2 separate regions of the Homo sapiens genome follow, and region 2 is linked to region 1. The links come from fine-mapping of genetic effects on plasma protein levels. A gene starts in region 1. The other region holds a variant in brackets. All regions are shown on one strand. Distances are from middle to middle.

Evidence for each region. PIP is the posterior inclusion probability: the model's chance that the variant is causal. Sun 2018 read protein levels with aptamers (SomaScan).
Region 2: its variant is fine-mapped to the plasma level of the SEMA6A protein (Sun 2018, PIP 0.95).

What each region holds. Positions count from the first base shown.
Region 1 is chr5:116,566,150-116,581,245 of GRCh38, reverse strand. SEMA6A (semaphorin 6A) reads left to right here and starts at 6,423. Exons shown (of 19, transcript NM_020796.5): 1 at 6,423-7,061. It overlaps SEMA6A-AS2 (SEMA6A antisense RNA 2), which reads right to left and starts at 6,828. Exons shown (of 3, transcript NR_147170.1): 1 at 6,707-6,828. RefSeq lists enhancers at 2,458-3,091, 3,092-3,727, 8,365-9,146 and a silencer at 6,588-6,667.
Region 2 is chr5:116,440,762-116,455,857 of GRCh38, reverse strand. SEMA6A (semaphorin 6A) reads left to right here. Exons shown (of 19, transcript NM_020796.5): 19 at 8,047-12,303. The coding sequence ends at 9,245. SEMA6A-AS1 (SEMA6A antisense RNA 1) reads right to left here and starts at 8,360. Exons shown (of 3, transcript NR_109879.1): 1 at 8,067-8,360; 2 at 6,041-6,230. RefSeq lists a silencer at 1,075-1,154. The variant G/A (reference allele first, on the strand shown) is at 11,581.

The DNA of each region.
Region 1 (15,096 bases):
CACGGCAGAAATGAGACCAGAGAGGTAGGCAAGAAACTAATCATGCACAATGTTAAGGCTGTATTAGGGTTTAGGGGTGTCTATGGATGCCTCTGAGGTGTTTTAAGAGAGGCTTGATGTGATCAGATGTGCATCTCTCAAAGATCACTTAGACTACAATCTGGAGAATGAATAAGAGGACAAGAGAGAATAGAATTTAATGTTAATTTGGGAGAAAAAGCAACCAAAAATATTACTATATATTGGTTACAGATACATATGGTATATGTGAAAGTACAGAAACAAAATGTAAGGATGCACAGAAAACTCATAATATCATTACTTATAAAAAAAGAAAATGAGAGTAAGAAAGAGATGTTGATGATGAGGAAGTTAAGTTTTATCCACCATGTTTTATTTCTTAAAATACAGACAGTAAACAAAAATGACAAAATATTAACAGTCATTAATTCTGAGTAATGAAAATTGGGATGTTGGTTATATTATTCTTTGACAATGTTTCAATTTCCTCAAAAGAAAAACTAAGTTAAAAAAAAAGTGAGAGGAGTACCAAGAGAGAGTAGTGTGTCATCAAAGCCAAGAGCAGAGAGTATGTCACAAGAAACAATTGTTGCTGATAATTCAAATAAAATGAAAACGTTAAAATACCCACTGTATTTACTGTCATGAATGTCACTGAAGACTAGCAAAAGGGGATTGAGTAGATGAAAGAGGACGAAGTGGCAGCACTGGTTATCAACAATCTCTGGGGCTGTCTGGCTTTGGAAGAGAGGAGAGAAGAGAGTAGCTTGAAAGAAATGGGATCCAAGGTGGGCTGTTTCTTTATCTTTTTCTTTTTCTTTCTGAGACGGAGTCTCGCTCCGTCGCCCAGGCTGGAGTGCAGTGGTGCAATCTCGGCTCACTGCAACCTCCACCTCCCAAGTTCACGCCATTCTCCTGCCTCAGCCTCCTGAGTAGCTGGGACTATAGGCGCCTGCCACCATGCCCGGCTAATTTTTTTGTATTTTTAGTAGAGATGGGATTTCACCGTGTTAGCCAGGATGGTCTTGATTTCCTGACCTCGTGATCCGTCTGCCTCGGCCTCCCAAAGTGCTGGGTTTACAGGCGTGAGCCACCACACCCGGCGACCAAGGCGGACTGTTTCTAAGATGGGAAAGACCGAAGCTTGCTTACATGCTGATGGGCAGATGCAGGAGAGGGTCTGGAGACAATAGGACAGAATTTCTGAGAACCTGTGAATTATTGGGAACATAAGGAGGGACTGGCCTCCTACTGGAGGAGGGACACTGCCTCCTTCATAAGAAGAGACACTTAGAAAATAATGAGTACAGGCCGGGCACAGTGGCTAACGCCTGTAAGCCCAGCATTTTGGGAGGTCAAGACGAGTGGATCACCTGCAGTCAGGAGTTCGAGACCAGCCTGGCCAAAGTGGTGAAACCCCGTCTCTACTAAAAATACAAAAATTAGCCGGGCATGGTGGCAGGTGCCTGCAATCCCAGCTACTTGGGAGGCTGAGGCAGGAGAATCGCTTGAACCAGGAGGCAGAGGTTGCAGTGAGCCAAGATTGTGCCATTGCACTCCAGCCTGGGCAACAAGAGTTAAACTCCATCTAGAAAGAAAAGAAAAGAGAAGAGAAGGAAAAGAAAAGAAAAGAAAAGAAAGAAAGGAAAAGAAAAAGAAAGGAAAGAAAAGAAAGTAAAGAGAGAAAGAAAGAAAGAAAGAAAGAAAAAATAATGAGTACAGAAGCAAAAATGTTCCCTTCTGATGGACTGCGTTTTTTTCAGGGAAGTACGAGGTATGAAGTGTGAGATATCTGATTACGGGGAGAAAGTTAGAAACGAACTGAGATAAGGCGGTGCTTTGGATGAGATTGAGGTTGATAACAATCTATCTACATTTTTTTTTCCAGCAGGCTTCAGCTGCCCAGTTCAGAAGCAGAGACGGCTGATGTTTACATACTTCAGAACTAGCTTTTAGTCAGATAGATGTTGACCAAAGATAGAGGAGCAACAGAATTGAAAGTATTTGCAAGAGAGAGGGACTGATACTATGAAGCTATGCTAGACATAGAGAGGAATGAAATAAGGAGGGAATAGGTGATCGAGAGAGAAGCAAAACTCAAAATCTGGAGGTCCTCAAGAAATCAGTGAATGCAGGGGGGTGCATGAGCAAGGAAGATTGAAGGAGAAGAAGTGATTGGAAAGCAGGATGTCAGAATTAGTGATTTGGAAGATGGGGCATTTTTGATAATAAGGCCCAGAATGAAGCCTGGAGTAGGTGGAGGAGGGGAGTAGAAAGACAGCATAGATGAGGAAGGCAAGAAATGGAAAAGCCAGAGGGTCAGTGGTTATATGGATGTTAACACTACCATGAGTCATGACAGGTGGAGGGACACATAGGAGGACAATAAGTCTTTGAAGAATCGGATAAAATGAGACCACAAATGTATTTGTAGAGTTTAGCTACCAAAGTCAGCCAGAGGTTTTTAGAGGAGGAGAAATGGCCTGAAAGCAGCATGAGGAGCAAGGATACGGACCTTTCTTTGTGAAGAGGAATAAACGGACAAGAAGAAGAAACAGCCCCCACAAGAAAAAGGCTAGGGAAAAGTAATTGGTCTAGAATACAGCCAGGATTTATTGTGGCAGTGGTTCTCATCCCTGGCTGCAAATGAGAATCATCTATGGAGTTTTAAAACCTACCCATGCCGAGGTCCCAGTCCTTACTGATGAATGAGAATCTTGAGCTTGGGGATTTGCATCACTGAAGAGCTCCCCTGGTCATCTAATGTGCAAGTGGATTTTAAAACCACTGACTTAAGGCAAAGAGGTGGAGGGAACTTTGGAGAAGGGGCTGAGGGTACAGATAGATTTCTTGATTATAAATTATAATGGCCTGAATGTACAAACTGTGCTCCCCAAGTGTGCCCCCATGAACCCTCAAGGAACTGTGAGTAGCAGCAGCCCCTTCTTCTCCCAAGTTCATTACTCCTTTTTGTCTCAAAGCAGAGATTCTGATCAAACAGCTAGATGTGGTCTTTGCAGAGAACCTGAGTTTATCTTTCTGCTTTATTTTAATCTTCCGCCACACTTTTCCAGGTGATCTGAGGAAAGCGGGAACTGTCATGTAGTTAACAAGGGCAGGGGGTGGCTGGGCGCGGTGGCTCACGCCTGTAATCCCAGCACTTTGGGAGGCTGAGGCGGGCGGATCACGAGGTCAGGACATCGAGACCATCCTGGCTAACACGGTGAAACCCCATCTCTACTAAAAATACAAAAAAATTAGCCAGGCGTGGTGGCAGGCACCTGTGGTCCCAGCTACTCGGGAGGCTGAGGAGAGAGAATGGCGTGAACCCGGGAAGCGGAGCTTGCAGTGAGCTGAGATTGCGCCACTGCACTCCAGCCTGGGCAACAGAGCAAGACTCCGTCTCAAAAATTGAAAAAAAAAAAAAGAAGAAGAAGGGGAGGGGGAGTTGTTACAGGTAGCTCCCAGCCCTGACCCAATCGCTGACACAGGTCAAGCCACTTCTGTCCGCTGTGCTTCCATGTGACTCCTGTAAAATGTGATGGTAGGACTGATGTGGAGGATGGCAAGGATGACAATGTGACACTTAATCTTTATAAAGCAGTGTCAGCCTTAGACTCCGAATTTACGAAGATCATCTAATGTAATCCACGAGCTCCTCGGGAAGTGAGTAGAATAAGAATCCCCATTTACAGGTGAATCCACTGGGACTTCACAGAGATAAGTGACTTGCCCAAGATCACCAGCTAAGTTACATTAACCGCAGATGGCCTCCAGAGACCAGGGCCTCAAACACTCCATTTTACGTCACTTTAAAAAAAACCACTGAAGTCACCTTCTCATCACTCTGTGATTCTTTAACTCTTTGGCTTTCTTTTCCTGAAGGGACAGGGTATAAATTGCAGACTTCAAAGGCTTTGAAGGGGCAGTGGTTTTACTGAAAACTTACTGCAGGCTTCTGGAAGTGAGTCTGAGGCGCACTTATGGGGAAATGACATCATGAGGTTTCATAGCCTGGCTTCCCCACAGGTGCTCCCCTGGGGGTTTCGGGAGCCTGACAATAGCTGGCTTTTCTTCCAGCTCCGGGAGCATCTTTTCTGGCAGGTGGAAATGTAATATCACGTGGTCAGAAGGAAGGGCTCCTACTTGGATGGTGAGACTAGGATCTAGTAATTGCCAGGAAGATTCTGGGTGGTATTTCTTCACTGTGAAAAGTAGACTCCAATTCTTTAACTCTCGTATTCTATAATTTTAAATTAGGTAAATTTAATCGCTCGCTTCTTGGCTCAGCGTTACTACAAATTAAACATGCAAGTATTAATATTGAATATAATGTCCCTTTAAACAATATCCTGAAACTCGTTGTGGGGCATTTCCAATATATCCATAAAGCAAATAAAACAACTTAATTGTTTGTTTCTCTAAGGGAAGGAGCTAAACCCGAAATTAATTTAGTTCGGCCTGTGAAACAATTCGTTTGCTCTGCCTAATTCTGCCAATTTAAGAACTTTTCCCAGACACAATTAGCATGTAAATCGGCGGCGGGGAGCGAAGAAGGAGCCTCGGCGACCCCGGTTGGGTGGAGCGCGGGACAAAAAACCCCGGAGGCCGAAGGGTCCGGAGCTTCGAAGGGGCTGCAGTACCGCGCCTGGGGCGCACGGACGAGCCAGGGGACCAGCTCACACTGACCCTGCAGTCATCAGCCAAAATCTGGGTGTTAAATAGCGCAGCCGGGGATCCAGCCGTCTTGGCCGCCAGATCCTTCTCCTAACCCCGCGGGATTCTGAGGAGACGTCCTGGAGCCGGCCCCCACCCAACCCGCGGGAAAGCGCAATCCTACCCACCGCCCCACACTCCCCAACCCCCTCCCGAGGCTGGCTCTTGAAGCCGCGGGGGCTGCGCGCGCACCTAGGGCCGCGCCCCCCACTACCCCAGGTCTATAGAGGCCTTTGCCCGAGAAAGGTGGGGATAGCGGCCCCTGCTGACAGCTCTGGAGAACAGCAGGGGTACTGATTTTTTCTTTTTTTCCTACCATTCTCCCTACCTTTTCCAGGTGGTGGTAGTGGTGCGGGGGGAATGGGTGTTGACCCATGTGCATTTATTCTTCGTGAAGCCTCTTAAGCAGATGTCTGTACTTAGAGAAGCGACCAAAGAGGGAACGTGGACTTATTAGTGGTCTTAGTCCCAATTAGGGAACAGGTACAGTTTCCAATATAAAGAAACTCGGCCTAAGTGGGACTGAGACCCCGATCTCCGCACTTGCTTTTCTCAGCCAACTCCATGACTAGTAAATATCTCTCCGAGAACTGCTGGGCCGCCCGATGTTACTTTGTTTAAAGGTTGCGACTAGGATCCGTACCATCTGCGAAGCCCCCTTGGGGAGCAAGAGCCGCGGCGCGCAGTTGATTTCGGGGCGCAGCGGCAGGGGGAGGGGAACGTGGTGTGGCCCGACGAGTTGGCACAAGCCTGTAACTGCAAGACTTTGTAGCTATTGAAAGTTCAAGTGGTGAAAGAAGGCTGTGCCTGCCATTCTTCATGTGATCATAACAATAGCGCCTTGGAAGTGGTTGCGATTTTCTTCTTCCATAAACCTTTTGGGTTCTCACTGGAATTGTATGCGTGTTATTTCTGAAGTTTACTTATTTCTAAGACCAGTCCACAAAATGTGAACTTCATTAAGTTTTAAAATAGATCGCCGTCGTTAAAAACGCCATTCTCTGCACTGTAGTTTATTTGCTTACTTCACATGCTTTATTAACGTGTGTATGTGCGTAATTAATAGCTGTGTTCTTATCTTCCAAGTGTATTTTTAACCGCACCGGCTTCTATCCAATTCATCTAACTACGTAGAGCGTCCATCGCTTCTGGAATCTACCTCTTGATAACAGTAATCAGAATCAGAAAAGCTCGCCGTTCACTTACCCTCATCCTTTAAAACTTTTCCATTTAAGAAAATCGATGAACAAAACCTTTCTTGTAACTCGCTCCTGCACTACGTCTATTTTTATTTATTTTTCTGATTTGGCAGGACTCAGCAATGCTGTCCGGGATTTTTTTTTTCTTTTTTTTTTTCCTAGCTAGAGCAGATGTGGGGGTGGGGGAGGTGAGGGCTGGGCTCCAGCCAGAGTCGCCCCCGCTGAGCCTCCGCCTAGCGCGCGGTGGGGCCAGGAATCCTGGTGGAAGGAAGCGGCGCTGGCCAGTTGGTCCAAGGCTCCACCTGCAGCCACACCGCGTAGTTTCTCCGCCTCTGCCTCGCTCACTCGCACTCACATACACCACAGCTCTCCTTTGGGTCGGAGGAGACGCCAGCCAAAGTAGGCGGAGTTGCGGAAGGAGAGTCCGATCTGCGCAATCCAGTCCGGGACTTGGCTCCGCCCGGGAGCGGCGGCCTCTCCGGTGACAGAGGAGTAGTGAGCGGCACGGGGTGAGGCTGCAGCCAACTCCGCTCCCCGCGCACTCGGCTGCCCAGGCGCTCGGAACCCAGCAGCGGCGCTCCTCCGCGGTGCCGGTCGCCCGCGATGCCCGCTTAGCAGCGTGTAGCAGCGGCCAGCATCACCACACCCGCGGCACCGCGCTGCCGGCCGCAGAGCCGGGCCAGAGCCTTGCACCCCTGCCCCAGCCCCCACCCCGCCCCCCGCCCTGAAATGACTTGTTAATCGGCGCAGACACCACCAAGGGGACTCACCGAAGTGGAATCCAAGTGGAATTTGGATTTGGAGAAGAGTTTCTTGAACATTTACCCTCTTCCTTGTTGGTTTTCTTTTTCTTTTTCTTCTTTTTTTTTTTGGCTTCTTTTTTCCTCTCCCCTTCTCCGCTCGTCATTGGAGATGAACACATCGCGTTTGCATCCCAGAAAGTAGTCGCCGCGACTATTTCCCCCAAAGAGACAAGCACACATGTAGGAATGACAAAGGCTTGCGAAGGAGAGAGCGCAGCCCGCGGCCCGGAGAGATCCCCTCGATAATGGATTACTAAATGGGATACACGCTGTACCAGTTCGCTCCGAGCCCCGGCCGCCTGTCCGTCGATGCACCGAAAAGGTACGCCCCGGGCGCCCGGGCGCGCCCCACCTCCCGGGCAGCTGGACTCCAGCCTGAGGGTCCCGGGGCCGTGGCTAGCGCGTGCTGTCGGCTTTGTGGTGCCTGCGTTTTATTTTGTCTTGTGTCTCTGTTTCCCGAGCCTTGCCCGGTCCTGGGGGAGCAGCCGTGAGCCCTGCCTGCCTTTCCTCTCTGCCCTGCGCCCCAGAGTGCGTCCGGCTCCACGTCGAGAGCTTTCCCACCCGCGTTGCGCACACGCCCGGCGCCGCCCCGGGCCGCGACGGCGCGTATGGCTGTTCCTCCTGGGGGTGTGTGTGCGAGACCCAAGGCTCATCCTCCCGCGTGCCCAGCAGGGAGCAGAGCGGGCCCTAAATGGTGGGATTCTCGGAAGCTCCCTGGCCCGGTGTGTCGAAGGCAGGGGAAGGGGTTCTGCCCTCGAGGGCTGGAGGGGGTTGGGTATAACAGCGCTGTTTTCGTCCAGTGCCAGGTGGGAGAAGGGGTTCCGCGGAGACGGTGTGGAAGCGGAGAGAATCTTTTGTTGTCAGTGTGGGGTCTGGGCTGGGCTCCGTGGAGTGCAAGAAACTTGTAATGGCTCTAGGCACCCGCGCGCCCTGTCTCTCGGTGAGATCCTGGCTCCTGTGGCCGCTGCCACCAGAGGTTCCGGGCTTTGTTTGCTCGAATAAGTGTCCGGGAGCAGCCGTTCGGGTGACGCGGCGCCCCCGCCATGGGTCCTGTCCCCCGCCGCAGCTCCCAACCCGAGCGGCAAGGATATAGCCCGTCGCGGCTGCGTCCCTCCTGAAGCACCGAGCCCTTTGCACCGGGCTGGCGCACGGTACGCCCTCCTCCCAGATCAGCGCGGTCTCGCTCTGGAAAGATGACCCAGGAGGGGGAAGGGTGAGAGACCTGGCAGAAGATGGCCCTGGGTTTGAAACCCAGACTAGGGCTCTGTTCCGACTCCTCACTGTGTCCTAGGGCGCTACCATGGGGGCAATGGGGCGCTGGAGAGTAAGCCGGGCAGTGCCCACCCACCCTGCCTGATCCTTCTGGGGCGGGAAGTGTCTCTTGTCCCGATTCTCCGCGTTTTGCTCAGCTCCTCGCTGTGGGAGATGGTGCAAAACAGGATCCTGAGGTCTCCTCCCTCCTCGCAAGACCCGAGCGGCACGGGGGGAGCCAGGGAGCGGTCCCGGGCTTGTGGACGTCGGGAAAGGAAACAGAATTCCGCTGTTTTTCCCGCTCCCTCGCCGCCCCTCCGCCCAGCGCCTCCTCCCACTTTACAGCGGCGGGGTCACTAGACCAGGCGCTCCTGGAAAGTTTCCCTGAAAGCCAGGGGCGGCAGGCACGACCGGACTGGGGCTCAGCATGTGCAGTCTGAGGGAAGCCGGACCTGGAGGGAATCATGCGGACAGCTCGGGATGCAGCTAGGAGCTAGATCCCGGCCCTTTGGAGAGTGGAACCTCCTGGCCCGCGGTACTTGCTCGACAAGTCGGGGAAGGGATGAATGGGGAAGCAGGACCCCGGAGGCAGGTGCGGCCACTGTGGACAGAGGCTGTGGGGAAGGTGCGTGTGGACACAGGCCGGGGCTCAGTGGCTTGCAAGTAGGCAGCTTCAGGTGCAGAATCCCGAGCCATCTGCTCCCTGCGCACGATTTCCCAGCGTGGCTATCCAGGGAGGGAGGAAGCAGAGCCAGGTGTGCGTGGAGCGGGAGAGGAATGGGAGACTGGAGGCGCTGTCTTCACAGCCGGGGCAAGCACTTCCAGGGAGTCTCCGGCCTGTATCGCACTGGGGAGCCCTGCAGGCTTTTTCGCGTCGGTCTTTGGGAGAAAGGTGGCTGCTTTGGAACTGCGGTGGCCAGGCACAGCCACAGTGGGATCGCTCCTTTTTTTACGCTCAGCTTTTTTACGCTACTGAATGCGATCTGTGAAAGGTTTAAAACACAGGCGTGCATGGACACACACACGCACACACTCGCCCTTGTACGCACAACTTTCTTTACCTCAGATCTGAAAAGCCGTTTAACCCACTTGCAGTGTTGTGCCAGCAGGTCTCAGAAAAGCTATTTAATGCCCCCCAGCGCTGGTTTTTAAGTCTTGCCAGGATGGGAAGGTCGAGTGCCTTTGCCTTGTCTTTCTTTAGTCCTGAAATTGTTCGTCGTCCTTCCCCTGGTGGACACATCTTGGGCATCAAGTCTGTGGTATGCTACAGTGATGGCGGGGAGGACTGGTGGTTTAATTAATTATTTAATTATGTTTTCTCCCCAAAGTAAAGATGCCTATGTTTAATTCTGACTAAAAATACTCTACACTTTTTTATACCGTACCCAAATGGCTACCAGCGGTCAAGATTGCAAGAATTTTGTATGACTTTTTAATGCTGTGTTTAGTCTACATGGAGCAGTTTTATGATTTACAGTAAGCTTTGATTAAACTACTCCAGGCACCAAAGTTAATTATTAACCTAACCTTAAATACAGTGGCAGAACTATGTCTCCACCTATTAACCTAAACTATCTATTAAAAAATAATTGCACTAGCTATTTGAATTTGGTTTACCCATGCTTGTTTGTATGGTAACTTTTATTTGAATCTTGAGTAACCCTTACTCCCTGTTATTATTTTGGTTTTGGGACGTTCTTGAATGAGGCACTTTGCAAACCAGTTTAAAGCAGAAAAGAACGAACATCAAATTTAAAATCTTACTTTTGGTTATGAGTCATTTTTCAACTTGATGTAAAGAAGCATTCTACTTTATGTTTCTGATGTACAGTGTTTGTGGGTGACAACCTTCCCCATATGTTAGGTTTTGCAGCTATCACCTTTTAGAGATGTGCTACATTTTCAATAACGCATATAATCCACATATGTAAATGTTAAGCAGATACCGAAAATCATTTCTGAGGAGCCATCAGCTGAATATACTTATTGGACATAACAACTAAGCTTAAATAGGTAAAAATTTTATAAGAACCAGTATAGAACACTCAAGTAAATGTCGAATGAATGAAATAAATAGTCACACATGGTTCATGTTTGTCCACTTAAAGTGGACTTCTTTATTTTCCCTACAGTGAAAAAAAAAATATATGCCTTCAAGTGAGTGGTTATGATAAGGCGGCAATAAGTGCACCTTTTTATTTACACACAACACACACCCCTCAAGTTCTTCCAAAATCTAGTAAATGCTTTTTCCAACATTAAACACATATAGCAGTTGTATTTTGAGTAGGCGGGTAACATTGCACTAGTGAAGTCTAATGTGTTGAATCAGAAGTGTAGCAAGAATTAGGAAGACTGTTATCTTCACCAAATAAAAATGAGGCATCCAAATTAAGAACTTGTATTAAATTCAAAATAAGTAGTTATGCTTTAAAAGTAAATGGGTAGTTGCACTCCTATATGAAATGGAAGGAAAAATACTATTTTGAACCAGGAGTTAAGTCAGATAGTTTATTCTGTGTACATTGTGGTTCAGCGCTTTTCAGAACAGGACAAAAGAGTGATGATGGGATGAAAGTTTTTTTAGAACTAGATTGCCAAGAGCTAATATAGTCTCTCCATCTTATTTGTTTGCAGGAAGGAATCACAGAACAAGCTAAGCTAATTGCAAATGCTTTAATTAAGCATCTGCCATTTGTGTAAGGCAATGCCTAGGAAAGCCTATCTCTGCACTGCCCCTCTCCACACCCTTCTTTAGGTTTAGACAATTTTCTGTCCTCCTAGAGTAGAGGAGTGCTCCTTGACATATTTATATAGAAGCTTTGTGTTATGGCAGCCACATTTGTGCATGTTGAGGAAGGTGATGCCTTGAGGCGTTCTGCTGGGCCCTCCCATATCAGGAACCCCCCCCACTCTCTTGGGGTGCCTTGGAGCCAAGTTTTCTCTGAGATATTTCTATTTCAGCGTGAAGGCTTTTCTCATCTGCTTTAAAATGTGCTGCAAGAGCAACTGAGCTATTCTCTGCTGGCGACCACATGGTTGCCTCTTGGGGATATGGTAAGATAGAGAAAGGAGGGAGGCATTTAATCCCTTCGAAATGGGCAAATGAGATGTCATACCACACAAACCTCAAGGGGAGGAGTTCAGGACAACTTCTCACCATGGGACTACTGCATATAGTCTATACACAAGGGTATCTTGCTTTGTGAAACAGATGAGCTCTTGCAAAACTTTATTACAATAATTCCATTTACACCAATAGAGGGTATCATATAAAACCATAATACACAGATGATTCCCAAATAACCTCTTCAGCTTAGACCTCTCTCCTGGACCTCACAAATAACCAATGCTTAGTGGGTAGGTAGCTCCTCCTGAATAGACATCTCAAACTTAGGTTTAAAAAACCTAATTCTGTATCTTTCTCCCCCATATCTGCCTTTCTCATAGTCTTCTCCATCATAGTAAATGGCAACTCCATTCTTTGAGTTGCCGGCCCCCAAATTTAGTTCTCCTTGAAGCTTCTCTGTCACACCTACATCCATTGTGGCTGCAATGCTGTTGGCTCCACCTTTGGAATACCTGCAGGCTTCCTTCAGGTGTTCCTCCTCTGTGGCCCTCAAATTGGCCAAGCCATGGTCCTCTCCTGCTAGGTTTTCATGCCAGCTTCCCCACTAGCATTCCTGCCTCTGCCCATTTCTCAACACAGCAGCCAAAACACAGCAGTGATTTTTTTTTTAAACTAAACCAGATCAGATCACTACTTTGCTCAGATGTTTTCCCATCTTCTTCCAATAAAAGCCAAAGTCCTTCCTATGGCCTTTGCAGCCCCACATGATCTGCACTCAGGTTCCAACCTCTCTGACCTCCACCCCTTGGGCTTGCTTGAATCTGTCAAGCATGGCATATACTTGGGGTCCTTTGCAAGGACTTACTCTTTCATGCCTTGGGATGGTTCTTTCCCCAGATAGCTACATGATTTGCTTCTCATATTCTTCAGGTCTCTGTTCAAATGTCACTTTCTCAGTGAAGCCTTTTGATCCCCTTATTTACTTTACTCTTTCCCACAGCACTCCCCACCTCTTGGCAGTCCTTATTTTTTTCTTAGCATTTTTCACAGTCTGACAAACTATATGTTGTCCTTGTTGATTTTCTGTCTTCCACTAGAACATAATGCCATAAGGATAGACATTTTTAGGCTTTATTCACTCTGGCACCTAAAGCTGTGCCTGGCACATCATGGGCCATCCATAACAAGTGTTTGCTGAATGAATAAACAGTGAATCATTTTTGCAAACAACTAGTCTTTATTTTATCTATTTTGTCTGCCTTTGTTTTTCTATATCATGTTTTTATCAAATGAGATACTTCATGCATGCATGTGTGTGTGTGTACTTCATGCATGAATGTGTGTGTGTGTGTGTGTGTGTGTGTACAATCTTCCAAGCACATAGGTGGTATGGCTCATGCATCATTAGTGGAACATTCACTGTGTTGTTTTTCCAGTGGTAGTGATGGATTGGAGCCTGTTCATTCCCACATTCTCACCCAGTCCCCTCCTGTGTCCAAGAGCACACATCTGTGAGACACCTGGTTGTAGCTGGAGGGAGTCTGAGTTAGGTAAAATCAACTTGCCAAGAAACAGAGCTAAGAAGACAGCCAGCATTTGTGGGGATTGAGCTTTTGACCCTGGCCTCATTTGTTCTGCATTCTAACCACTGGCCATAGAACGTTCATGTTTTTTTGGAGTTTGCTAATAGTAGTTTTAAAATTCAACTTTCTATCAGGAGAATACAGCATACTTTATTAACCCATGTTTCTGCCCTGTACCCGTACAGTATATCTGCTGTTGAGGATCCTGCACTTGGAGACAAGAAGACCTGAGTTCCAGACTCTCACTACCTTGGACAAGTCACTTAACTTCTCTGTGGCTGCATTATTTTAATTGAAAATTATAAATAGTAAACCTATTCTTCCTAACTTATAGGATTACTGGGAAAATAATACGAAATCATGAATGTGAATGTATTTAGTGAAATATTACACGCATTGTGGAAATTTGGGAAGTTTGATGTTAACCCCCTCTTTCCCACTCTGGACCCTGGATATAACAGAGATCCTACTTCATCTTCTAAATTATTTTTGGTAGAATATACACTGTTCATGTAGTTTTAATGTAAATCACATTATGCAACTAAATAATATGTTCAAATTCATTGAAATTGTACAGTTCACCTAGAGCATGGATAGCAACTTTATTAATTAGAACACCTACCATGTCAAGGAAACATTGCTTTCAACATTATCATTAAATCAGGCAAGGTCATAGGAGTACCATTCTGCCAGGAATTAGTTTAAAAGTAAGATAATTGTTTTTGCTCAGTTAAATTCTGAAATAGTTCAAATCAGTGTAACGATTAATATGTCAGGGTGAACCAGGACTAGTAGAAGTTTCCATCTTTGTCATAACAAGGCCGAATTCGTTAGATCTTGTGGCGTGAGGTTAATAAATGTGAAGGGACCGTTGGAGGGAAGGTAGTGGACAACTCTAGAGGCATTGCGGAGGTCATGCTTTTTTGACAGACAATGCACGTGGATTTGTTTTGCCATTTACCAACAGTGTGACTTTATGCCAGTTTCCTTTCTCCTTCAGTTTTCATTTGCAAAGTGCTAGTATGATGATAATGTTATGGTTTTGAGAAGAATAAATGTGCTAACATCTGTAAAATGCATGTCACAATGCCGGGCACACAACAAGCAGTCATTCAACATAAGGTATTATTTTTACTTGAGTAACAGTAGTTACGAAAAATGTCCTAGGAATGGATTTTGAAAAAGCAGATAGTACTTTTATTCTGGGGGGCAGGGGAAATAGTAGAAAAGGAAATGGCTACGAATCTGTAATATAAAGAGATGATGCAAAAGAAAACAACCTTTGGACTAGAAACAAACATTCATACCATAAACAGGCCATAATGTCATGGGTTTTAAGTTGAGAAGCATGTGAATACATCACTTGCAGGGAAACAGGAAACAGGGAAACTTTGGAATTTGAAATATCACACCCAAAACATGGAAGGAAAAAACCACTATATATAAAAAATAATAATAATAACAAGCAGAGCCTTATATCAAATAGGAGCCCAAGGGATAGTTTTTGAAAAATGATAGCTATCACTTATTAACATTTTAATAATAAAATGTACACTCTGCACCTACATTTAGAATCTGAAAGCAACTCATAATGACAATTTTAGGGATGAGTTGAATTCCCAAGGACCACACCTGTCTTAGGAGAGAAACTCGGCTGCTGATTGGAACCCTTGAGGAGGTTGTGGCTAGGACTTCTGCAAGAGGGTCTTCAGGTTGGGCATGCATCTGCCAGGTCACTCTTCCCTGGCCAAGCTTGAAATCAATTTGGGAGCAAAAGCAAACTACTGCCTTCCACACCAAAGGTAGGAAATAATTGGCTGACCCCAGTAGAGATAGCAGTTATTCTGCTGACAGACACACTACTACAAAACCTGAAATTTGATTCAAATGATAGTCATACAAGTTCTTATCAGTGAGAAAAATCTGACTTCTAAAAGGCACAGCAGAAGGGGAAATAAATTGATGTTATCACCACAATTCCCTGCTACCATTATGTTTTCCAGGAATGCCTCCATGGCTTAGAGTTACAGTTATTTTCAACTAGGAAATAAAATGTTCTCAAACTCTGTAAGTGGAAACAGAATGGAAAGAGTGTGAGATAAATCAGTAATTAACATGCTGCAAGGACCGAAGTTTCAGATCCTTCTTAGCAGCCAGTATGGTGACTTTTGCTTAGAAAGCATTGTTAGTAATAGATACTTCCTCATGCAGCCTTTAGACTTGAAGCTTTCTTTTAATATTCCTAGGTGCTTTCTAGGAATTTCCAACTAACCTATAATTGTCATCTGTAGAACATTAAATTCAAAGAATCCATGCCAATTAAAAAAATTTAGCAGAAGAAGCTCTAAAGTTGGTGCTGTTTACGCCTTTCTTAGCCCTTCTGCCCCTCTACGCTTCAAAGACCAGCCTTTGGCCATGATTTGATTAGAAGCATTTATAGAACAGAACAGGAT
Region 2 (15,096 bases), 130 kb after region 1:
AAAGTCACACAGTTAGCTATTTGTAGAGCCAACACGCAAACCCAGGTCTTTATGAGCTCAAAGTGTATGTTCTTAACCAGTAACACCCAGTCTCATCTTTAACCCAGATCTCAAGAACTACATTTCTAGAAAATTCAAGTTGGAAGATTTAGCAGTATTGAAACAGACCTGTTTCTTCATATCTGTTTTATCTTTGCTTTATAGAGAAAATTCAAAGCAAGTAATCAAATAATCCAAGCAAAGACTTGCCCAAATTTCACAATTTTTTAAGGAGGTCCACTTCTCCATTTTGTGGCTTTGATGCCTTTTGAGAGAGTAAAGGAAAAAGATGGGACCAGGAAGTTGGAAAATAGAAATGCTTTGTCTGGTTTTAGAAATCACTTAGATGTTGTGTTTCTCGTCTTATTTAAGAAAGCTGATGAAAGAAAACTTCAAAAAGCAGGAAAATACGCCTTGCAGACTCTGCTAAAACTTTGCCAATGTAAAAGAATCATTACCTTTACGGGGACAGTAACAGTTCTAACACATGAAACCACAAACCAGCATTCCAGGGCATGGCTTTTAAAAATTATCTTATCATGACTCTTAGTCTAGACATCAGCCCGTGCTCTGGCTGTAGCACTCCCATTGGCAATGCCATTTCTAAAGCAGTAGAGCAGTGGAGGAACAGTGAACTGAGCGTTCCCAGCACACAGGGAAAAATGAAGCTGTTTCTTCTCTAAAAAAATGAAATAGAATGAATTCCAGGCTCATTCTCCCTTCTATCCCTGTGATGACATCCCAACCAAAAATGCATCACTTTTAAAGGTGATCGAAGTGGAAGTGGGTTCATCTACAGTCAACCACTCCAAGCATTATTTCAATATGTGAGTTTTAAAATAGCTTCTGAATTCAGGACATTAAACAGCCAGGCCAGGAAGCTACCTCCACTTTGGCATGGTCAGTCATTAACTTTATATATCTTGAAGACCATGGCCCCTCCTGGTACCTAATCTGTAGCCTGCCAGGAAAAACACATACATACACACACACGCGCACACACACATGCACACACACACACACACACACTTAAAGGAAAAGGAAACTTTAAGTTATAAACTCCAAGCCTATTTCCATGGCTGCTGGCATGTCAGTTTATTCCTAAGCCATCTGGTTCACATTATGCCGTAAGACAAGAAGAAGGCTGCTTCCTGCCCAGATAACCACAGAGAGTTCCCATTTCACTTTCAGCGTGGTCACCTCGACTGGCTGGGGTGTGGCTTTGAGAATAAATTGTCTCCAGTTAGGGTTTTTCCCTTGTTTGTTTTCTTCTCTTCTTAATAGGGATTACAGCGGGCCCTGTGTGGTTAGCGGGGCGATGCTTGGCTAGTGATTAGTTCATTCATTTATACTGTCTTGCAGGACCGTGAGCCTGGAATTTTGTTGCAGTAAGATTTGCAAACAAGAAAAATTGGGCTGTTAGATTCCATTCACTCAAGTTGTTATGAGGATTTCAAGGAAATTGTAGGCTTGTCTTACTATAAAGCAGAATCAAGAATCTATTTTTAGGGGATGCTACTCCGGGGCTTTTCTTGGTGTTTTGCCATCTTTCTTAGCTCTCAGACCCAACACAAACCCTCTCTGGCTCAGTGATGGAGGAAATGTCCATCCTCCTTTTTGCCTTTGCATATTTCTCTAAAGGACACAGAGAGGCTTTGTTGTCTTTGTGGTCACCGGGTCCACTTTACACAGATGCCTATTAATCACTTCACTATGGAGACAGACACATCCATCATATCACAGCAGCTCAGAAACGGGCCGTCCAGTGAAAGGGGGTGAGAGGGGAAAGTGCACACTTAACCATTTCGAGTTAGGTTACTGGTTGCCTGTGTCTTACACGCTTAGGGTGGTAATTGGGGTGGGGGTGAGTAGAGCTCTTCCTTTGTATTTAGCTTAATAGGTGTGATTAATTTTACGTATTTTTGCTTGTCTGTTTGCTTCACATTTTGATAGGACAGATAACATCTCCCAGCTATTTGTGTAAGGTGCAGGGCATTAGTATACTTTAAGATTGAGAGTTTTAATTTTAAAAACAGTAATAATAAATGCAGGTAGACTAGCTGTGCTTTTGATGCAATGATACTGACTCTTTGAAGCCAAGAGTTTTGCGATAATGGATTCAATGTGGAACAGAGCAAGCCGAAAGTTAGCTTTCTCAGGCAAGAGAAACTGCAGATAAATTAACCAAGAACTTTCCTTCTATGAGTGGCAGATCTTCTAAACCTCTTTTTTAATCATTCAAGGCTGTCCACAGCCTTCCAAATGGTATTTCTAGCTCTTGCTCTTGTATTTTCTCTACAAGTGCTCATTCATGTATGCATTCCTTTACTATTTATTTAAAAGATATTTACTGAGCACCTTTCTGCCTGAAGATTCAGTGGTGAGTTTTAGCAGTCTAGGTGAGAAAAACAAGTATCATACTAGTGATGATTTTAGAATAAAGGGAATGCAGAGCTCTGGGGACACTTTAGAAGGAAGAACTTAACTGGCCTAAGGAGTCAGAGAAGGCTTCCCCATTTAAGCTGAGCCCTAAAGATAGGGTCTGATGAGTGGGAAAATGAGTAGGGACATTCCAGGCAGAGAGAACAGCCTGTATGAGAGCCATGAAGCAAGCTTGAGTATGGAAGGGTGGCTCATGCCTCCAGCCTAACAGACTAGAAGGGAGTTAGACCATTTGCTATTACTCACTACGGCCTTCCCTTTCCTTCCCTCCAAGGCTCAGTTCTTGTTGCTCTCTCTGCTCCAGCTAAGATCCTGTGCATCTTTAAGGCTTAGCTCAAATGCCATTTCCAATGTAAAGCTTTTGCCCACTGTTGAAGCAGAAGTGATGTAACTCATGACATAGCCACACTTTGGACAGAGTTGTATGCAAGCACTTGCCTTCTTCCCTGCTGGTTTATGCCTCATTCATCATTGTCCTTCCCCGACACCTAGTGCAGTGCTTGGTAAATGTTTGCTGAAGGCAGCCACAAAGATGCTTGGAGCCAAAACCTTGTTATACTAGGAGAGTGATAATAAAGAAACAACCCAACCCTAAGTTAGGGGAAAACATCATTTCTAAAGCAAATTGTCTCAGAGCCTGGTGCTAGGTTCCCTTTGCACGGAATAGTATCCATGAGCAGGACTACTAGAAAACATTTTTTAAAATAAGGAATGTAGTGTTTGATATTTCAAAATTTATTAACATGGTCATCATAGGAAAAGTCAGAATTGTATTGGGCTTCCTCTTAGTTTTCAGTTTACAATTGTTCTTATTTTGAATCACATGTTGCAGGGTCTAGGGGCAGGGTCCTTCATAATCTTTTCATTGCTTTGGACTCTAAAGAACTTCAAATTTCCTCTCTGAGGTCTCCCTCCAGCATCTGAAAACTCTCACCTCAGGAAAAAAAAAAAAAAACAGTGGAGATTCTATTCTTTCTCAGTTCTGCCAATTTAAGACATGATTTCAGAGAAATCTCTAAGCCAGGGTGTGCCTTGCTTCCTGCAATAGGAAGGTGGAAAGACTAACCATTTAGCACCTTATGACTGGTGAGAAATAGCTGGTGGTTAATGAATCAATGCAAAGGATTTTTCAAATACTGTTTTCATTACTAATGCCCCATTTTCAATTGGTAAGAGCAGAAGAGGATGCAGGGGTTGGCAGAGGAAGGAATTTCAAGACCCTAGGGTAGAGAAGCCAACTCTGATTGTTCTCTCTGCAGTGGGAGGATACCTGCGGAGGGGAGTACACCACCCTCCAAGGGCCCTTTACTTGCCCAGGGCTTCCAGGCAGCATCTGAAGCAAGGGATACTCAGCTCTAGCCTGTTGCCCTTTGCCCTTTGCCCTTTGCAGAGATGCATTTTTTTTTTTTCTAATTATTCAGTTCCACTGGGGCACTCTGTTGTTGTAAATAACCCATTTATCGTCATCGACTCTTTTGGATTTTTCCCAGAACTAATTTCATTTTTGAAATAGTTTCTCTTCTTATTGTTTTGAGCAAATACTGAGCACCATTATAGATTTATTTTTGTTTGTCTGATAGATGCTACTATTAAAATTCTTTTATATGATTGGAGATAGAATTTATTTCCATGACTTCAAAAGCAAGGGTGATAGTCACTCTAAAGATTACCTCCCAAGTTTAGAAGTTCATTTAAAAATAGCTCTACAATGTATTGAAAACCCATTTATTCAGCCATCATTTGTTGAGTTACCCAACTAAGAGCTCTGTGGATGGCAAGGGTTATAAATGCCGAAAAAATGTGGTACTTGCCCAGGATTTGCACTCCACTGAGAATCCAACTATAATTGCCAACATTTTCCACTTCTGTTGTTTTAATTATTTCAAAATTCAGTAACTATAGGCATCCTGAAACAGTATGCATTCCCTTATATTGCTTCGAAATCTCATATCACCTTTTTGACTACATTTAGAAGGCACGAAGTTTGGACCTGGAAGCACAGGTCTACTCCTCTCCCATGGGAGACCAATAGCAAATGGAATCCAATGGAGCAGCTGCGACTATCACTTGGAAGCCCTCTGTGAGCCACTAACCCACCACTTCTCCTTTGTGGCTTCTTTTGAGCTTTAGATTTGTCCAGCAAACTACAGCATTTAAGCTCTTTCCTATTTTTTATTTCCTTTGATTCTTGTAACAATCCAGTAAGGCAGTAAGATTAGGTGTGTTCACCTCATGCTACAGATAAAAAAACTGAGGCCCAGAGATGTTAAGTCACTTGCCAAAAGGTCACCCAGCCAGTAAGTGGGAGCCTGCAATTCCAAGCCCACTGAGATCTTCTCTAGCTGCTTTTATCACCACTACTGACAAGTCTGCTGTTTCCAAGCCTTCACAATGGCTATTCCACAAAGTTGACTTGATCATTTCTGTGAATGCTTCTTTGGCCTTTTTCATGATATAAGCAGAAAGCTTTAAGTTTGAAAGGCATTTCCAAAAATAACGTTTACCTTATCTTCTTCAACTGCACTTTCAACTTACTCTCTGATCTGTTTCCATCTTTGGACGTTTCTGAATTTACACAAGCAGATGAGGAAAGCCCTCTGCCTCCCCATGGATAGATGAAGACATGCAAAAATGTTTTTAAGGCCACTCTTTATATAACAAAATGAGACGGGGGAAAAAATCTGTCTGAGATACCATTTTCCTGAAAGGTCAGATCCTACTTAACTTGTTAACAACCAAAAACCTGAACTCAAATATCATCCACTAAAAAAGAGTTCTTCCCAGTGAAAGAATAAGTAGCTTTCATGAGTCTAAAATAGCCAAGGACCTTCAGACATGAAAGAAGAATGATATTTGGGAGCTAAAAGTAAGGCTAAGAAGCAATGGATACATGTGAAAAATTTGCAGTTTTCCCAGTGAAACCAATGAATTGCTCTAGCTTTACTCTTTCCACGTTCCTTTTAAACTGAGAGGGCAGTTTAAATTGTAGAATGCCAAAGTCAATTGTAAATAGCTTCCTATTATAATACACATTTATTGGGAATATCCAGTCCCCCTAAATTTGGTAGCCTGGAAGGGTTTCATGAAATACTCATTGCCATGAAAAAAACACCTAATACACCCCCACCCCATTACTGGGGCCGTCTAGCCTGTGTTCAACTCCCACTGAAATCACCAAGTCAATGAGAGAAATTAAAACCATTTTATCCACAGGTGTACATTTTTGTGCAATTATATGTAGGGGGTTAAAAACGGTGTTCGGTAGAACCCCATACATAATCAAAATTGAAGAAAAATCAGTAGCTATTTTAGCATAATAAGGAAATGCAAATTTAAGAAAGAAAATTTTCATTAGCACATTTCCTTGGTGAATAGGTACTAAAATATATTTGAATGCAGGACACCCCACTGTTTGGGGAGCTTCACACATAAAAGGTGTGAGTTACAGCCAAATTTCCGGCTGTTTTTTGCTTCTCAGTTTCTACCCCTTAAAAGCTGATGGAGATAAATCTGGAAATATTTGAAAAGTATCACATTTGAAAATTATTTGATATCTTACCGTCTTGTACACTCTTTCCTTATGGTGAATTGCCTTGACTGCCTTTTATTACCAAGGGTATTTGTTGGATCACAGAATCTTTATTTCTTAAGAGATATTTGCTGCTTCTACTTAAGTCACAATCCTTTGTCACAGGACAATCATTTCCACAGCAACCAACTGTGATGTCACAATTGAAGGGAGGAGGACCCTTAGGAAGGAAAGAAAAAGAGAATGTACTTTTCAGGCTAAGGTTTCTGGGTTTTAAAACCATCACTTCAGAAATCAAAATATTTTAGCAGAAAAACCCCCATGAGAAAGCTTCAAGGTCTCGGCTGTGACAAAGACAACATTTCAGTAGAAGTTTAAGGTTGCGTGTTGTGGGCTTGGGAAGGGGTAGAGATCTTTATTTCCTTTCATTCTAATTCTGTGCCACTGATACCTGCCAGTAAAATACATGAAACATATTCCAGAAAGAGTTGATTTAGTAGATGAAAAATGCGTCTCCCGAGACCAGAGAAGGTACCTTTTCTGTCTTGCTATCATTTCCATAATAGGAACAATGTTTACATTTCCTCAGCCCATGCAGTGCCTCTAATGTATTCATGTTCTTTCACTCTCCAGAGGCAGGAATTGAGGTATTAGAGATTTTATTTTTTAGCGACTGCATCAAGCACTTAAGATCTGACAACTGTGATGTGTATTCTCACTTGGTATTAAAAAATAAAAGCTTCTGTGTTTGCATTTGATTAGAGTCACTCAGCTGGGTGGCTGATTAAGCAGGAATAGCGAAAGCACCTTCCTTCAGAAACACTGAATCCTGGTTAATGTAGTGTAAGATTACGGATGGGTGTAGTCACATAATTTTTATTAAATTGAAGAGATTAGCTCTGCTGAAAAATCCCACTGTGACAGCAAACTCTAGGTGCAATAATGGTACCTAACACTTCTCAAACCCACTACAGGGCCCCAAATGGTCTTATTTCTGAATCTTCTTTCAGTTCCAGTGAGAAAGCTTCATTCAAATATTCAGGATAGTTACCTGAAATTGAGTTTGCACTGTTTTTTTTTTTTTTTTTTTTTGAGAGGTGATGCAAAATCAGCACAAACATTTGTAGTCTGTGAACTTTAGCTATATTCTCTCAGTGTAAATAAAAATGACACACACTCTCTTTCCTCTAGTTGCTTAAAAGGCAAACACTTTTCCCCAGACGGAGGCTCCGGTGGCCACAAGGGGGCCGTCGGAAAAGATCCCAACTGGAAGCCCAGAGTGTGTGATTTGTTTGTCTAACATGCATAAAATTGTTGCCTCTTCCTCCAGACTCAGGATAACTTGGTTATCCCAGTTCTAGGAAGGGAAGGTTAAAAAGCCATAAAGAAGGAAAGAAAGATAACTTTTGAAAGCCAAAACCTCCCATATTCCCTGGAGTGAAGCAGAGTAGAAAGTGCAGGTACTGGAAAGAGTGAACAGCACTTTTCTTTCTTTCTTTTTTTGAAACGGAGTCTCGCTCTGTCACCCAGGCTGGAGTACAGTGGCCTGATCTCCCTTCACTGCAACCTCCACCTCCCAGGTTCAAACAATTCTCTACCTCAGCCTCCGGAGTACCTAGGATCACAAGCCCCCGCCACCGCGCCTGGCTAATTTTTTTTTTTTTTTTTTTTTTTTTTAGTAGAGACGGGGGTTTCACCATCTTGGCCAGGCTGGTCTTCAACTCCTGACCTCGTGATCCACCCGCCTCGGCCTCCCAAAGTGCTGGGATTACAGGCGTGAGTCACCGTGCCCGGCCTGAACAGCACTTTTTTAGACAACAAAGAAGGCTACAAATGGAGTCCATTTACATACTGCACACGAGGGGCTTGGGGAGGATTAATTGGTTAATGTTTGGCAAGCTGAGCTTGGAAGACAAGTTGTGCAGAGGTGCTGTTGTCACTTACTACTGTTATTAATTAACAAGGTGAATGCCAAGCAAAAACAAGCCTCGGGGTGTGCTTTCATTTCTTAACGCCATATGCGATGTCTATTGCAGGAGTGATTCGGGAAAGTTACCTCAAAGGCCACGACCAGCTGGTTCCCGTCACCCTCTTGGCCATTGCAGTCATCCTGGCTTTCGTCATGGGGGCCGTCTTCTCGGGCATCACCGTCTACTGCGTCTGTGATCATCGGCGCAAAGACGTGGCTGTGGTGCAGCGCAAGGAGAAGGAGCTCACCCACTCGCGCCGGGGCTCCATGAGCAGCGTCACCAAGCTCAGCGGCCTCTTTGGGGACACTCAATCCAAAGACCCAAAGCCGGAGGCCATCCTCACGCCACTCATGCACAACGGCAAGCTCGCCACTCCCGGCAACACGGCCAAGATGCTCATTAAAGCAGACCAGCACCACCTGGACCTGACGGCCCTCCCCACCCCAGAGTCAACCCCAACGCTGCAGCAGAAGCGGAAGCCCAGCCGCGGCAGCCGCGAGTGGGAGAGGAACCAGAACCTCATCAATGCCTGCACAAAGGACATGCCCCCCATGGGCTCCCCTGTGATTCCCACGGACCTGCCCCTGCGGGCCTCCCCCAGCCACATCCCCAGCGTGGTGGTCCTGCCCATCACGCAGCAGGGCTACCAGCATGAGTACGTGGACCAGCCCAAAATGAGCGAGGTGGCCCAGATGGCGCTGGAGGACCAGGCCGCCACACTGGAGTATAAGACCATCAAGGAACATCTCAGCAGCAAGAGTCCCAACCATGGGGTGAACCTTGTGGAGAACCTGGACAGCCTGCCCCCCAAAGTTCCACAGCGGGAGGCCTCCCTGGGTCCCCCGGGAGCCTCCCTGTCTCAGACCGGTCTAAGCAAGCGGCTGGAAATGCACCACTCCTCTTCCTACGGGGTTGACTATAAGAGGAGCTACCCCACGAACTCGCTCACGAGAAGCCACCAGGCCACCACTCTCAAAAGAAACAACACTAACTCCTCCAATTCCTCTCACCTCTCCAGAAACCAGAGCTTTGGCAGGGGAGACAACCCGCCGCCCGCCCCGCAGAGGGTGGACTCCATCCAGGTGCACAGCTCCCAGCCATCTGGCCAGGCCGTGACTGTCTCGAGGCAGCCCAGCCTCAACGCCTACAACTCACTGACAAGGTCGGGGCTGAAGCGTACGCCCTCGCTAAAGCCGGACGTACCCCCCAAACCATCCTTTGCTCCCCTTTCCACATCCATGAAGCCCAATGATGCGTGTACATAATCCCAGGGGGAGGGGGTCAGGTGTCGAACCAGCAGGCAAGGCGAGGTGCCCGCTCAGCTCAGCAAGGTTCTCAACTGCCTCGAGTACCCACCAGACCAAGAAGGCCTGCGGCAGAGCCGAGGACGCTGGGTCCTCCTCTCTGGGACACAGGGGTACTCACGAAAACTGGGCCGCGTGGTTTGGTGAAGGTTTGCAACGGCGGGGACTCACCTTCATTCTCTTCCTTCACTTTCCCCCACACCCTACAACAGGTCGGACCCACAAAAGACTTCAGTTATCATCACAAACATGAGCCAAAAGCACATACCTACCCCATCCCCCACCCCCACACACACACACACACACACATGCACACAACACATACACACACACGCACAGAGGTGAACAGAAACTGAAACATTTTGTCCACAACTTCACGGGACGTGGCCAGACTGGGTTTGCGTTCCAACCTGCAAAACACAAATACATTTTTTAAAATCAAGAAAATTTAAAAAGACAAAAAAAAAAGAATTCATTGATAATTCTAACTCAGACTTTAACAATGGCAGAAGTTTACTATGCGCAAATACTGTGAAATGCCCGCCAGTGTTACAGCTTTCTGTTGCAGCAGATAAATGCCATGTTGGGCAACTATGTCATAGATTTCTGCTCCTCCTCTCTTTTAATGAAATAACGTGACCGTTAACGCAAGTAACTCTTTATTTATTGTTCACCCTTTTTTTCCTTAAGGAAAGGACTCTTCCAAATATCATCCTATGAACAGCTCTTCAGAAAGCCCATTGAAAGTTAAACTATTTAACGTGAAATCCATTAACTGGAATAATTGAGTTTCTTTATTTTTACAATAAATTCACTGAGTAAATAAGTTGGAGCTGGAATTCTGAGCTTTGTGTTTGGACTGTCTGGTCTGTAGCTAAAGGAAAAAGTTAGGAGGGGAATATTTATTTAAATCTATCAGTTCATTGCCTGGTCAGGTCTCTGGCCTATAAACATGCAAAAAAACTAATTCATGTTAAAGTCCTTCCAGATCCTAATTTCTAAAGCAATCAGGAGAGAAAGCTTTTAGAATGGCACATCATATCTCATTGATGCCAACATGGTTTTGTCCATGGTTCTGACTTTCTGTGAAGGCACCAGCTTGCAATATGCCATCCCATTTCACCTTGCATGTGAGACAGCAAACAAAATCCACAAATGGTGTGAACTAATATGCTGGCTGCTACCTTGCATAAATTAATGATTTGATCACACGGGTTCTTCGTGGGGTTACATCTGTGAATAGCCTGTTTTCCACATGTAAATTTGTGCCTTACACCTTGAGTTGTGTACACTTGTAAACTCTTTATGATCAACTGTTCCCCCTTTTGAAATAAGTGCAGATATTTATTTAACCCTCCCTTCCCCACCCTCTGCCCCACTTCCAGCCCTCTGAAAGATTGGAGTCAAGCAGATGGAAGAATGCAGTGGTGATAGTTGTCATGCGACAGCCTGAGAACGCTGGGCAGCACCACACCCTCCAATTCACACTGCCTTCTAGTTGTGCCAACTGGAACCACCCTTTGGCTGTGCTGCGAAGCATGGACCCCAGTGTTGTTGTGGGTGTGTCAAATCCCCTTTCATCCTCAAGAGCTCCCTGCTTCCCTTAGATTATTTCAATACGGTGATATCCTTATTTGCTAGCAGAAAAGGGACTAACGTCCCATTCCTCTTTTCTGCTGCGTCCACTGGCTAGAGAGCAGGCGGTGCGCGGTTGGGCAGACACCTGGGAGGAGTCTCCAAGCCATGTGCACAGCACACACGTGCAGTGCACACAAAGAAATGACATGGAAATAGATGCAGGCAGGCTGGTCCCTGCTGTGATTAACGAGTAACTCCAAGTACAAGGCCGACCACAATGGATGCTGCAAAAACGTTGACTGGGGCAAAGGATTTTTTATTTTATTTTTTATTTTGTTAATTATGTTTTTAGGGGATGGGAGGTGGTGTGTGTTTTTCTCCTCTTGGTTTTCATTTGCTCAAGCACACAAAAGGGACTTTTGTTTACTCTATCATGAACAAAGGAACTGTCCACATACTGTAAACCATGAGCAGTGTTGTTGTTGTTTTTTTAAACAGTATATTTGGTGGTCTCTTTGTCTGCTTTTATTTCCAGTTCGATCTTCTGGGTTTAGTTTTGTCTTTAAAAAGAATTCAAAAAAAGACTGACAATGACAGTTTTGAGTTGGATAGTGAAAAAGTGGAGCCTCCATAATCAGTGTGGTTGCCTTCAGACCTGAGTACTTAGCTGAGGGTGGGTGAGAGCCCTTTGTTCCAAAAGTCCATTAGTTTTGCTGTT[G/A]TTTAGGAGTAGGTGGTTGTTGTTGTTTTTACTTTTTTTTTTTTTGGCTTTTGTAATGGAATCCATGTTCACATCCTGTGAACTCTGTCTCCTGAAACCCTGAAGTATTTCCTAGAACCTGAAATATTGTTTTCTTCCTTGAATTTTCTCTAGAAATGCAGAAATTAGGAAGGTGATGGGTCTGTATCCCCCTGCCCCCTTCTTTCCCATGCTTGACTCCCGAGAGTACTGGCAGTGCAGCACCCATCATTGACGTAAGCGGCTGTCTTGTCCAGTGTTTGTAGGCATCACTGCCTCAGCTGTTAAGGAGACCTGTGTCAAAACTTACATCCACATTCCTACACCCCCACAACCCATCACTTCTGGTGTTAACCCTAAAATACCCACATGTATTGAGCTGGTCTTCTGCATTTAAGTATTTCTCCCCAGTTTTTTTCCCCACTGTGTGTGGGGGGAGGGTCCATAAACCCGAGTGTGCCTTTGCTTTCCACCCTTGCTAGACACTGGTAGATGCAACAAACTCAGATTTATATTTGTTGTAAAGTTGTAAAAATATTGTGATGTCACCAATTTTCCTTCCATCTCCACATCCCCTAACATCTGATTCACGACTTAATGTATGTTGTAAGAAAAGAAAAAAGAAAAGAAAAAAAGGGAAAAAAGAAAAGCAAGGAAAAGGCTCTTTATTACTTAAAAGTAATAAAACCTGACTGTTCTATATTATCTTTTGTGTCCTGAATGCTTTTATTTATCTCTTAATTTTTCCTTTTTAAGCTGCTCTCCTCCCCACCCTTTGTGGGTATGATGCTACTCTTTCCTCCATTTGTATCTGGCTTCCAAAGCATACATAACGGTATAGTTTGATGTATTTGTTTGCAGTGTCCACACCCAGCCACCCCCACCCAAATTATTGACGTGTTTCTCTGCTCAAACCCAGCCTGGAGCAGGATTTTAGCAGAAGCCACCGGTAATTAAAAAGCAGAGCATGCATTGGCTCCTTCTATTCATTTTATGCATTTTCTTTTTATGGGCTTGTTCATCATCAAACATTTATGGTAGGCTTGATAGTTTAAGAGATCAAGGCTAGGATTTTAGTATGTAGGGTCCACTAAAAATAGATCCTTGCACAGATGTGACTTCAGTCTTCTTACATATTAATAAGGTGGAGGGGGCTGGATTTTACTCCTTGTTAGCATTTATCTTTTGTAACACAGAGGGTATATTGGAGGTATATTGGGACACAGCCTTTGATTTTTCTTTGGCAAAAAGAGCATTATTTTGCAAAAAGAGCATTATTTCTTTTGCAAAAGAGCATTATGAAATGCCTAGGTCAGGTTTTCCTCTAGGGGTGTTTTTAAAACAATTATTTAAATAAGTCTTCAGCTACAGTATTTTACTTTTGACCCTCTGAAATTTTTTTTTTTTTTTTTTGATGCTTTAAGTCAGTTGAGTGTGGGAAGCTGCAGGTTGAGGCCTCAGTTCATACCTATAGTGGCCCAGTAACCTTTAGATTGCCATCTCCAATTGTGTTTCTTGAATTACATCCATAGCGCCTGGCACAAAGTTGACTAGAATATAGTTTCTACCTCCTCATTTGCAAAGAGAGACCGACATGGCCCTTGTAGTTGCCATTTGGAGGTACGAACAAAGTACTGATGAAGCTCCCTAGAGGTTAGGGTAACAATATTTGTGCTGGTTCTTAAAGAACAAGTTTTCTGAACAACTAGCTCAGGCAGAGGGGACATCCTTTGCAAAGGCACCAAGTGTGCTCTTTGGGAAACAAAAGGTTCAGCAGGCCTTGTGCAGGATCTGTGAGAGCTTGGCAGGGCAAGTCTGGGAAAGGGTGGTTGGAGACAGGCCAGGAGGGACCTGGTTCCCATATGCTAGGAATTTAGCTGAAGCAGTGGAGTGCTCCCTTGCTTTGGAGTAAATAAAACAACAGACACCGTTTGTGCTTGGGAAAGCTACCTGGCCATAATGTGGGAAGTGAATTGGCCTAGAGAGGGACTGCAGGCCAGCTGGGCAGTGTGCCAGATGGCATGCCAAGTGGGTGAGAGCAACACAAGTGAAAACCGCACATCCAATTTCAGATGCAAAAAGGAACAGTCACAGAGCTGAGTCCTTTTTGCCAGAAAGAACTTCCACTGTATGTAATTGACAGGTTAGCCCTGCCCGGTTATACCCAAATGTCTTATCTAGAACTGACAGAATGGCCAACCTCTAGTATGACCCTTTCATTTTAAAAATGGGGGAAGCTTTGCGAGGCCGAGGTGGGCGGATCACGAGGTCAGGAGATCGAGACCATCCTGGCCAACATGGTGAAACCCCGCCTCTACTAAAAGGCAAAATTTAGCCAGGCGTGGTAGCGTGTGCCTGGAGTCCCAGCTACTCAGGAGACTGAGGCAGGGGACTCACTTGAACCCTGCAGGCGGAGGCTGCAGTGAGCCAAGATCGTGCCACTGCACTCCAGCCTGGCAACAGAGCAGACTCCATCTCAAAAAAAAACAAAAAAACAAAAAACTGGGGGAAGTTGAGGTCCACTGAGTGAAAGGATTTGCTCATGCTCCAAAACTAGTGGTAGAGCAGCTATTCTGAAGACAAATTCATGGTCTCTTTCCCCAATTCATTCAGATCAGTAGAGCAATACTAGCTAGAAAGACTTGATCCTGCTCACCCATCTAGACAGCATCTGCATCTTTCTCAGTCATCCTTTCTCACAGGAAGCCCTTCATACACACCCACCCTTCACAAGCTGGGCTTCCTAGATCCCCTCATTTGGGTCAAGGCATGGGGTTGGAAAAAAGCTTGGATCACATGGGCTTGAGGTATAAAGTCCCTGCAGTGCAACCTGATACTTGATCTGGTGGCTTTTGCTGCAGTCAGCTTTGTTCTGGGCTGCTGAAGAGGTGAAAGAGGCTGAACAGGTGCAGCCAGTATTTTAGCTGGGGCCCCCCGGATGTCCCTGCTCAGACACGAAAACTGCCTCAGACAACCCTGATTTTTAATTGTGTTTGCTTGCTAGCTTGATTGTTACAAGGTTTTTAGACTGTTTCTCCAAAGCAGTGGCTGTCCTGATGCAGCTACCAGGCTAGGTGTTTCATGGAATCAGAGATGACATCTTGGACCTGAATGTTTTCCTAAAGGCCCATGTCAGATAAACACAAACTGGTCTCATTGTTCAGCCTTGTAATTTGGCAGAAGCCAAATAAGATGCTCCTGGACCCCAGCACCTAGGTTTTACTGCCTGAACAAAAGCTCTTTCAACAAAAAGTCATTCAGCAAGTAAAAGTGTCAGAAAAGCACCTCTAATTTCAGACACTGGTACATTTTGCTTGAGGGGAAGTGGTGAGGGGAATTTAAAAGAACGCTTTAGTAACAAAATAACATGATTAAGAGCATAATCCTTTTCCTGGCTCAGCCCTGTGACAGCTGGGTGCTTGGACTCAGTAACTCTTAGAAACCCGCATCTCTCCCTTGTCTTGAAACCAGGTGATGACTTGTCTCTTGTACAGAAGT